Linked DNA regions of Homo sapiens. The protein of the gene in region 3 purifies or fractionates together with the protein of the main gene of each other region. This does not show direct contact. Each region holds a gene or a part of one and is shown on either strand. Other genes may lie near its edges.

Evidence for each region.
Region 1: the proteins of TBC1D2 (region 3) and SASS6 purify together in Homo sapiens (affinity purification with mass spectrometry; one large-scale study listed by BioGRID and IntAct). This does not show direct contact.
Region 2: the proteins of TBC1D2 (region 3) and INTS9 fractionate together in Homo sapiens (co-fractionation; one large-scale study listed by BioGRID). This does not show direct contact.

What each region holds. Positions count from the first base shown.
Region 1 is NC_000001.11:100,122,787-100,126,439, forward strand, and holds part of SASS6 (spindle assembly abnormal protein 6 homolog), read right to left. Parts: intron 3,157-3,653; coding exon 3,096-3,156; intron 1,192-3,095; exon of another isoform or gene 504-1,191; coding exon 424-503; intron 1-423.
Region 2 is NC_000008.11:28,883,386-28,887,038, forward strand, and holds part of INTS9 (integrator complex subunit 9), read right to left. Parts: intron 1-3,653. UniProt on the Homo sapiens protein: Component of the integrator complex, a multiprotein complex that terminates RNA polymerase II (Pol II) transcription in the promoter-proximal region of genes.
Region 3 is NC_000009.12:98,253,489-98,257,241, reverse strand, and holds the start of TBC1D2 (TBC1 domain family member 2A), read left to right. Parts: upstream 1-1,592; 5' UTR 1,593-1,700; coding exon 1,701-2,069; intron 2,070-3,753. UniProt on the Homo sapiens protein: Acts as a GTPase-activating protein for RAB7A. Signal effector acting as a linker between RAC1 and RAB7A, leading to RAB7A inactivation and subsequent inhibition of cadherin degradation and reduced cell-cell adhesion.

The DNA.
Region 1 (3,653 bases), on a different chromosome or scaffold from region 3:
ATGATCCGCCCTCTTCGGCCGCCCAAAGTGCTGGGATTACAGGCGTGAGCCACCGTGCCTGGCCAATTACTATCTTTAATTATAATTAGCATCCTGAAGGATTCTTTTTTCAAATTTACTAACGCTTGTTATAATCAAGAACTAAGCTAAGGAACTCTGATTTTTATAGAACGTATTCAATGGGAAAAAAAATCAATAAATTCAGCAAAAGCTTCAAACTTCACAGGTGTTTTAAGCAGAATTCTAATAACCCACAAAATATTTATTTTCCAAAACACCCTAAGTAAAGATAGTACAAATAGCCCAATATTCCCAAAGTAACTAAATCTAATATGTAGGTATGTGTTTGAAAGAGAACAGTACCAATAAAACTTAGAAACTTATTTTTTCACTAAATATAAGATCAGAAAAAAATTTAGTTACCTTTGAAAATCTTCCTCAGATATAACAAGGTTATATAAAAAAAATGGATCCGTGTCATCAGTCAGACGAATAACTAAGTCCTAAAAGAAAGTTTGTTGTTTTTAAATGTTTTTACTAGATCTGGCCTTTTGAGTAATTTCTTCTCAGAAGTAAAGAAATCCAACAACATCAGTGTATCATAGTTATATTGCAGACAGCTTTGTTTTCTAGTGCTGCTGGTTTTTTATTAGTCTTTAGAGAGTTAGAATCTTAAATAGGGGTAGACATTCCGCTCTTTAAAAGCCACATGGAGGTCTGTAAAAGTTAAGCAAGTGCTAGGAGTTGAAAGTTTAGGAATATCCTCCTATCAGAGGCTTGGGGAAATTTAGACCCAGTCCTTGCTACACCATAACATGATGAAAATTTTCTTTACCACTGAACATACCACATTCAATTTTATTTTTAGTTTCCTTAAAGTTAACTGGTATGGCATTTCAAAAGTGGCAAATATATCAGCAGAACTGACAATAATCCACACTAGAAAAAAGAGCTTCTGTCTCTCAGAAGACCAGGGTATCAGGTAACACGTTGCCAGGCTTCTTCCAAAGAGCCTATTCTCTCCTAGGCCAGGTGGCCACTGATATGGAAGCCCAACTGTTTTCAGTCTCAAATGAAGTAAGTACCTTTCATAAAGATCACTTTCCAGGTAGCTACGTGTACATAGTGTGGGAGACCATCATAACAGCTAGAGCTCACAAAAAGTACACCAAAATTATGTACCAGAGAACACTGGTGAAAGAAAAACAGCATTAGTTACAAGATGATGTAAAACTAATAAAGAACTGGGCATTAAGGTTAAGAATTCATTTGAAATAAAATCTCTACTCATGTCTACTGAGGAAATGCTAAGATCCTAGAAAAATCTAAACCACTTATGCACCAAGCTAGAAAATGAAGAGGTACAGCAGGCATAAGGAATAACATGTAAGAAGTATAATATATCATCTCTACTCTGGAAAATTAGTAATTTAGGCACCTGCTCTGCCTCAGAATGCCTTGTTCTTAAGCAGCTTCTATTTAAGTACTTCCTGAAATTCACCCAGGATGCTACTTAAAAAACCAAAGGTACTATTAATACTACTAGGTCCTTGAATGTGTTCAGGGAAAGCTATGGCACACAGAAAACAGATGCTATATTTCAGTGTTTTTTGACATGGGGTCTCGCTCTGTCGCCCAGTCTAGGTTGCAGTGGCACCCTCACAGCTCACTGCAGCCTCAACCTCCCAGTCTCAAGTGATCCTTCCACCTCAGCCTCTCAAGTAGATGGAACTACAGGAGTGTGCCACCACATTCAGCTAATTTGTGTATTTTTTTGTAGAGATGGGATTTCACCATGTTGCCTACACTGGTTTCAAACTCCTGGCTCAAGCAATCTGCCTACTTCAGCCTCCCAAAGTGCTGGGATTACAGGTGTGAGGCACTGCCCTTGGCACAGATGCCGTATTTCTTAGTTCTCTGTTCCAGTGGCCCCCAACCTTTTTGGCACTAGAAACCAGTTTTGTAGAAGACATTTTTCCAAGAATTAGGGAGTGAAGGATGGTTTCAGGATGAAACTTCCACCTCAGATCAGCCATTAGATTCTCATAAGGAGCATACAGCTGAGATCCCTTGCATGTACAGTTCACAATAGGGTTTGCACTCCTATGAGACTCTAATGCCACCACTGATCTGACAGGAGGTGGATCGTAGGAGGTTACACTCGCTTCCCTGCCTGCCACTCACCTCCTGCTGTGCAGCCTGGCTCCTAACAGGCCACAGACCGTACCAGTAAGTGGCCAGGGGGTTGGGGACCCCTCCTCTATTCTATATCCTTAGTTCTGTTAATGACTCACACTTTTGAAGGTTATATGAGACTGATACTCTAAATGCCTCTCTTCAAAACGTAAAGTAAAAGATTCACAAATATCTCCCTGCAGTACTTCGGTTTATTGTTTTTACATTTATACCATGAAATGCCAATTCTACAAGGCAGCAGTGTGTGTGTGTGTGTGTGTGTGTGTGTGTGTATGACCAACAGCAATAAAATATATTTTTATATATATGTTATTATATATATATAATATGCAACTTCTAAGTGCACTGGGCAAATCTAAGGAGAATGTCACCCCACCCCACAATTTTTCACGTATGTTTTAGAAATATATGGTATAGGCCGGGCACAGTGGTTCAAGCCTGTAATCTCAGCACTTTGGGAGGCCGAGGTGGGCAGATCACAAGGTCAAGAGATCGAGACCATCCTGGCCAACATGGTGAAACCCCGTCTCTACTAAAAATACAAAAATTAGCTGGGCGTGGTGGTGCATGCCTGTAGTCCCAGCTACTTGGGAGGCTGAGGCAGGAGAATTGTTTGAACCCGGGAGGTGAGTGAGCCGAGATCGTGCCACTGCACTCCAGCCTGGTGACAGAGCAAGACTCCATCTCAAAAAAAAAAAAAAAAAAAAGAAATATATAGTATAATTATCCTTCAGTTGTTGTCTCAGTAGATTCCACCACCCTTGATTTCCAACAGTTGCAAAATAGCCTAAAATGTAAAAGCAAAATAAATGCAATAAAAGATGTCACATTCTTAAAGAACAAAACTAATTGTCTACAATGTACCGAAATGATATTTCAAAAAAGGACTAAATACCAACCTTTCTGTGAACTGGATTAGAAACTGATTGTAGTTCAATGCTCATTCTTATACTTACTCTCCTGTAGGAAAAGACATACCCAACCATCAGAAACATTCACACGAAATGAGTTATCACTATCATTTGTATTAAGTTTTCAGTCTTAAGTGACAAGACTTTCCACAGGTGTTCTCTAACTTATGAACAGAAGTTTGAAAAGCACACCGGATTTGAAGCTTAATTTCTTCTTGTTCCACTAGTGAGTAATCTAGCAGTGTTTAACCTAAAACTAAATTTTTCTCACCTGTAAAATGGGGATATCGTGAGGATTAAATGAAATAAACACTGTGGAGTGCCTAGCACTAGCCTGATATATGACTTTGCGGCCCTGATTGTAAAGTAACATCTATTGAAAGACAAACCATCAATTTAGTAACTTTTCAACTGTAAAATGGGGATGTTTTGAGGATTAAATGAGGTAAGAACCTCATATACCCTTACTGCCCTGATTCTAAAATAACATCTAGAAAGACAAACCACCAATTTAGTAACAACTTTTCACATTAAAAAATTACCATG
Region 2 (3,653 bases), on a different chromosome or scaffold from region 3:
AAGTCTATAGTAGACTGAGAGCATGTGAGGATAGATCAAAGAAGAAAGTTACATTCAGAAGACAAATAGTAAAAGTAAAGAAACAGCATCATTGGCAAGGGTGGGGAAAATGCATTCTCATATACTACCTGTACAATGGAAAACTAGTGAGCAATTTGGCCTTATCTGTTAAAATTTTCAGAAAGCATATTACTGGATACAATTAAATACAGTTTTGACCATTACATGTAACAAAAATATTTGAGCCTGAGCCCAAGGGTATCTCTAATCAGGACATTCAATGTAATACTGCTTGAATTGGACAGTAAACCCACTAGGCTTCACGTTCCATATAGGCTGGGGATAAATCTGTTTTGTTCACTGCAATATGCTTAGTATCTTGAGCAATGCCTGGTACAGAGCAGGTGTTCAGAAGATTTGTTGAGTAAATACATGAATGATGGAGACCTGAGGGTTGGTTTATGCCTGGACCTCTGCTGGTGTTCAGCAAACCAGGAGTGTATTTTCCATGTGGAATGACTTGGTGGCCATGCTGCAACCTGGGCCCTTGTGAACTGTTAACTAAATATTGCTGAACATCAGAGCAAATGCCAGAGGGATATGAGTACTCAGAGCAAACCAGTCACAAAACAAATATGCTACTGTGGTACCGTGGTTATAGCAAGAGTAATGCTGTAATACTTCTATTAGTACAGTCTTCTGGCTTTGCTGATTGACCATAGGTAAGCCAGATTTTTTTTTTCAATTCAACTACTACTACCAAAAGTCTGTCATCAGTGTATCTTTTTTTTTTTTTTTTTTTTTTTTTTTTTTGGTTGGAGACAGGGCCTTGTTCTGTCACTCAGGCTAGAGTGCAGAGGTGCAATCAGCTCACTGTAACCTCAAATCCCTGGGCTCAAGCAAACCTCTCACCTCAGCCTACTGAGTAGCTGGGACTACGGGCACAAGACACCAGGCCTAGCTAATTTTTAGTTTTTTTTGTACAGACAGGGTCTCACTATGTTGCCCAGGCTGGTCTGGAACACCTGGGCTCAAGTGATCCTCCTCCTCAGCTTCCTGAAGTGCTAGGATTACAGGTGTGAGCCACTGTGCTTGGCCCGATATATTTTTTTGCCTTGTTAAGTATAAAATATTTAATCTTCAGAATAATAATTTTGGACTCTGAAATGCCTAAGAGTAAAATATCCATCTTTATCACAGACCATTACTGAGAAAGGTATGTAACTTAGCCTTATGTCACACGCAGCTTTTCAGAGTTTGAGGAAATCATGAAGGAAAAAACCTATTGAGGTTATGATAAAATATGACCTTTGAAAAGCTTGAAATGACATTACATCCTAAAGACACAGGAGGGCACTCTTATTAACCAGCAAAGAAAAACAGAAAAGACAGTGAAGTCAAGCTGACATTTTAACAATTTGTACTGCAATAGTTGAATCAAGCACCGATAAAATGTTGAGGGCTTGTAATTTATAGCCCGAGATTTCCTGTTTTCATGTACAACCTAGGAAGCCAACAGGATTCTACAACCATGTAAACTGGAGGAAGAATCCAACACTCTCAGATCCAAGGTGAGGATTAACCACGCCCCTTTCTAATGATTTCTTAAACTGACCTTGGGGCAGGATTTGCCCCTTTCAAGCAATCTTCTACATAATCTACAATTGCACTCGGTGTTTTACTTGTCTTCCACTGGGAGCAGTCCATGAATTCATTTCTTTGCTCCATCTGTTTTCCCAGGAGAAATGGCAAGTTAAAAGTTTGAGCCAGTAGAAATGAAACAGCATTTTGAACAAAGGAGCAAAGACCACTGAAGAATGTATTTCGTGGCCTTCTCAAGTTTTAAAATTTGTAAACACAACTACAGCATGTAATTTTCTCCTTCAAATTTAATAAGTATAGTATAACAAGCATTTAAATGACCTTCCTTTAAGACTTTTAACAAGCCGGCCTCTGCAGAGCGCCATGGATTCTGAGGCACTCAGGCCCCTCCCAAAGGATTAACATTAATCTTAAAGTCACATTCAAATTTGTGTCTCAGCAAAATTATAAATAATTCCATGTCACAGGGGTCAAATGTAATGGTTAAAATGGAAAGCGTTAAAATTGTGAATGCCAAGGGTATACTGTGGTTGCATAAAAAATCTTTGTTGACTGAATAAGCCAGAAGATTCTCTCCATCTCAGGTACTATCTGTAGGAAGTACAACACACAGGCTGCATTCTTGAACTGCTTTGGATTATTTTATTCGCTTGACTCTTCATCTATTTAAATGACTGGGTTCCTGGCCATGATGTTTCAAACTTAATTTCTGTCAACGTGCTCAGAATTTTTTGTTCCATGTTCTTTCGGTAAGGACCTTTGTGAATTCCAGTTTCTATCCTTAGCTGAACTGGCCATCAGCGTACTCAGTTAGGCTCAATCTATACAAATAACAGAACATGCTCTAAAATGTGCTAATTTAAAAGATATATTTCTAATTTTCCTCTGCTTTCTAAAATGATTCTGGTTAACTGAAAATGCCAATGAGTTTTCTTCAGTTAAATAAAGCTGCCTGAATATTGCATATTATAAATACGGAAAGCCACTGAAATCCTCTGAGTTGGTATCTAAGAAGGAGATACCCAAGTATTACGTTATAATGGCATCCATTGTTTTCATGTGGGTGTGTGAAAAGCCACCAAGAGGGTGATGTGCAAAGTTAGAGAATTATAAATGGTATCACAGGAGCTAAATTTGGAAGATAAAAAATACTAACTTCAGCACCAAATTAGTATGCTCTGATATGGGGGCCTTTAGCTCATCAAGAAAGTCCTCAAACTTAAAAAAAATTTTTTTTTAACCAATAACCTTAAAAACTTTTTTTTGTTTTTTGTTTTTGAGATAGGGTCTCATTTTGTCACCCAGGTTGTAATGCAGTGGTGCCATCACAGCTCACTCCAGCCTCAACCTTCTAGGCGCAAGTGATCCTCCTGCCTCAGCCCCTCAAGTAGCTGGGACTACAGGCACATGCCACGACGCTCAGCTAGTTTTTGTATCTTTTGTAAAGACAGGTTTTGCCATGTTGCTCAGGCTGGTCTAGAACTCCTGATCTCAAGCCATCTGCCTGCCTCCGCCTCCCAAAGTGCTGGGATTACAGTCATGAACCACTGCACCTGGCCTGAAGATCTTAATTGAACCACACTTGCATTTAAAGCTAATTTTTAAAAATAGCCTTGAATATATTTTCTGTATGCACTCTACCTTCTTTTTTTTTAAGAGATAACCTAGGCATGGTGCAGGGTGCTAGAGTTCCTACCCTCACTAAATAACAGGGAAACCTGGGTTTCGATCTTGGCTCTATCATTTTTAATCCATGCTAACTTTAAGCCACTTACTTCACCTCCCTGAAGCTCACATTTTTTGTCTGTAAAATGGGAATACTGTCACCTGGATCAAAGGATTAAATGGGAAACTACATAGCAAATACTTAGCACATTGCCTGGCACACAATAATTGCTTTATAAAAGGTAGCTATCATTCCTTTTTTACTTCAATGGTTACTGCTTATTGTAATCTCTTTAATTTCACTCTTTAATCTTTTCTCAAGGGTATCCATAGACCTTGATAAACCTTCAGAAATTATTTACCAATTATTTACACAGAATCTACAT
Region 3 (3,753 bases):
ATTACAAAATTATGAACACAAAATTAGGTATGACGATGGTTATTTAGAATGAGAAAATAAATTGTAAATTATAACAAATGAAGAGCTCTCTGGCATTTAGGAGAAATGCTCCCTGGTTGCAACTCCCCACCTGTTAGACTACAAATCCCAGCGACCCATGCAAGTGAACATAAATTTCATTAGCTTCACCGTAAAGTTGTCTGGCGGCGGGTCGGGGGTGGGTAGGAAGAAGTGTTATCTCCATTTTTAGGTTGAGCAAATCACTCAGTATTGCAGAGTGGGAATCTGAAAATTATGCAAATAGACTCTAGAGCCCTCGCCTTTACCCCCACCCTGCTTCTTGTCAATATCACTGAGTGTGCATGAGGGTCTCGTTAACGACGGCTGAGGGGGAGACGATGAAGTAAGAGGAAAGGCTGAACAAAGGGCAAGAGAAAGGCAGAAAGAAGCTCCTAAAGAAAGCTGGACGCAATTGGGCTCCGCAACCCTAATGGAGAAATGCGCCTTAGGAGGGAAGGGGAGAAGTTTAAGGGGAAACAGGTAAAATGAGGCAGAAGTTGAGCAAGTTAGTCAAACCCTAAATTCTTTTACTTATTTACAAAACAGCCTGGCGCGGTGGCTCTCGCCTGTAATTCCAGCACTTTAGGAGGCCGAGGCAGGAGAATCGCTTGAGGCCAGGAGTTCAAGACCCCCCTCTCTGCAAAAAACAATTTAAAAATTAGCCGGGTGTGGTGGTGCGCAGTTGCGGTCTCAGCTACTCGGGAGACTGAGGCGGGAGGATGGCTTGAGACCGGGAGGCGGAGACTGCAGTGAGCTCTGATCGCGCCACTGCACTCCAGCCTGGGTGACAGAGCCAGACCGTCTCTAAAAATAATAATAGCAATAACAAAATAAAAATAAATGTACTGCACCCAACTATGACCCAGGAGTGGCATGGGTTTCCGCAGCGCAGCGGCCGCGCCTGGGCGCCCCAAGCAACACAACCAGCGCTGTCAGGAGGCGAATAGGAGCCAGGACAGAGAGCTGGGGAGGCCACTGCTGTCAGGCGAGGGATAAGAAGGCCGTCCGCGGCGTCACTGACGGGGCTGAAGGAACACCAGGAGAAGAGTGGCAGACAGCTCCGGAGCCGCGCTGCCCGGGCGACGCCGGAAGATGGGCCTCCCAGCGGTCTTCCTTTCAGCCAATGGCCGCGAGATGCGCCGTCCGAGGGTGCCCCGCGCGGCACAGGGAGGGAACAAGCAGCCCATCGGGTGCAAGAAAGCACTATCTTTCTAGGTGACTATGCGAACTACCAGGGAAGTGTAGCTAGGGACAGGCTTCTCTGCCCGCGGTTAACCTAACTCAGTGCCACCACGCCTTTAACCTGAAGCCAGGGAGCACGGCTGCCCTCAGTAAAGATGGCTGACTGGCGCGGAGAAAAAGCCGGAAGCAGCTGGGCTTTGCAGGGAGCCGACTGAGCGCTGCGGGGGCGTGGCCTGGCGGTGGAGGGGCGTGGCCAGCCGCCGTAACCTGGGTTTGCGATCTTTGAGGCGCGCGCACCGCACCCGGTCCCGACTCTGTGGCTTCCTGGGGGCGGGTTCGCCGTCGGCCCCGCCCCCGCCCAGGTGTCTCCCTTTGGGAAGCTGCCCGCCGAGTCTCCGAGATTTGTCCCTGGTGGTCCCGCGGACCCCTCGTCCCTCCGCAGTCTCCGGCTGGCAGCGATGGAGGGCGCTGGGGAGAACGCCCCGGAGTCCAGCTCCTCTGCCCCTGGGTCCGAAGAGTCTGCCAGGGATCCACAGGTGCCGCCTCCGGAGGAAGAATCGGGGGACTGCGCCCGGTCCCTGGAGGCGGTCCCCAAGAAACTCTGTGGGTATTTAAGTAAGTTCGGCGGCAAAGGGCCCATCCGGGGCTGGAAATCCCGCTGGTTCTTCTACGACGAAAGGAAATGTCAGCTGTATTACTCGCGGACCGCTCAGGATGCCAATCCCTTGGACAGCATCGACCTCTCCAGTGCAGTGTTTGACTGTAAGGCGGACGCTGAGGAGGGGATCTTCGAAATCAAGACTCCCAGCCGGGTTATTACCCTGAAGGTAAATTCCTGCAACGACTTTCTCCTTTCCAGCGGCGTGAGGTCCCCTTTTCGCAGGGCAAGGCTGGGCGCGAGTGTGAGGTGGACACAGTAAATTTGGAGTGTCGGTGACGACAGTTCCAAGAACTTTGTGCTTTGCAAAGTGCATTCCCACCCATTTCCTCATTGGGTTCCCACAAGGCAGGGAAGACAGACCCATTTTACGGATCAAGAAACTGAGTCAGAGGGAGATGAAAGGACTGGCTCGAGGTCCATGCGTCTAGAGAGTAGGGTAGCTTGGAATCCCATAGTCTTTCTACCTCTCAGTGCTGAATCAAAACTTTTACTTTTGGGTGTGCCTGACAGTGCAGTTACCTTAACTTTCTTACCTGGGACCTAAGTAAGTCAAAATATGGTCTTTGCAATCCTCTCTCAAGGCCAGGATTCTGATTCCCGTTTCTTGATATTTTGGCCAAGGTCAGTGAATGCTGAGAAGAGACTGGCAGGGATTAGGAAAATAAACACTTAGGTTTCACTGATCAGCCTAGATTGTTCATCTAGGCATGCTTAAACCTGTTTTCCTATCAGCAGCAAGGGGTAGGTTTTATCATCATGTGTAACTGAGAAAGCCTAAAGCAGTAGAAAGGCCACATTCTTTGAAATCAGACGGGCTTGGATTCAAATTGTACATTTGCTACTTACTAGCTGTGTGACCCTGGACAAGTTACTTAACCTCTCAGAACCTAGGTGGTTTGTAAGCATTTGACACATCACAGGCATGTACAAATTGTTGAATTAATTGCATCACCTAGAATACAGCCTGGTACCTAGTGGAGTACTTAATAATTTTTTGTTGCATAAGCACACATGCACACACAAGGTGATGGAACCAAGGTCAGAGTGCTAATGTCAAGAGGAGGTGTCCCATAACTTAATTGGAAAGACAGATCTGGGCTAAGTGTTCTATGGGCATCAGAGAAGAATGTGCCAGGAGATAGCCTTCCCCACCCCATCCCCATCTGTCCACCCCTCCAACCCCAACTCCAGCTAAGTGGGTATCTGTGGATGCCCACGTGTTCAGTTCTCCTTTACTGACTGGACTTGGCGGGTGACCAGGCTGGGGGACTTGGTTAAAATAATGAAACTCAGGAATCCCTGGCCAGGGAAGGCATTTTCGAGGTCATGTGGTTCCCGGGTCTATGTGTCTCTTCCACAGGTTGACTGCTGTATGCAGGGTCTTCAACACATGGTCTTTATAATAGTATTCCATTGTTCCTGGCTCTGCGCTTGGCGGGGTGTGGAGCTAATGCACCCCCACCCCTGGTTCTCTGACAGCTTAAAGTCTGGTGGGAGAGACTGAGGGAGAACCTGCATGCACCCTGAAATGTTCTGTAGAGACATGTGATAAGTCTGTGCAAGAAGGTGTGGTGACAGGAGGAGTCAGTTCCACCAAGTGGAAGGGGCTAGCCAGAAAGGCATCTGGAGGAGGGACACACCCAAGGCTTGAAAGAAGAAATAGGTGGCAAGCAGACAAGAGGGAGAAAGGTATTCCAGGCCAAGAGAGCACCGTGAGCAAATTAGGAAACCATGATACAGCCCTGAGTGTCCAGGCAAATCACATGAGCCAGAAAAACAGAGGGGCCCAAAGGATGGAGTTGAAGAGCAGAGGCCCGAGGGTGGGGAATTGGCAAATTAGGCCAAGTAGC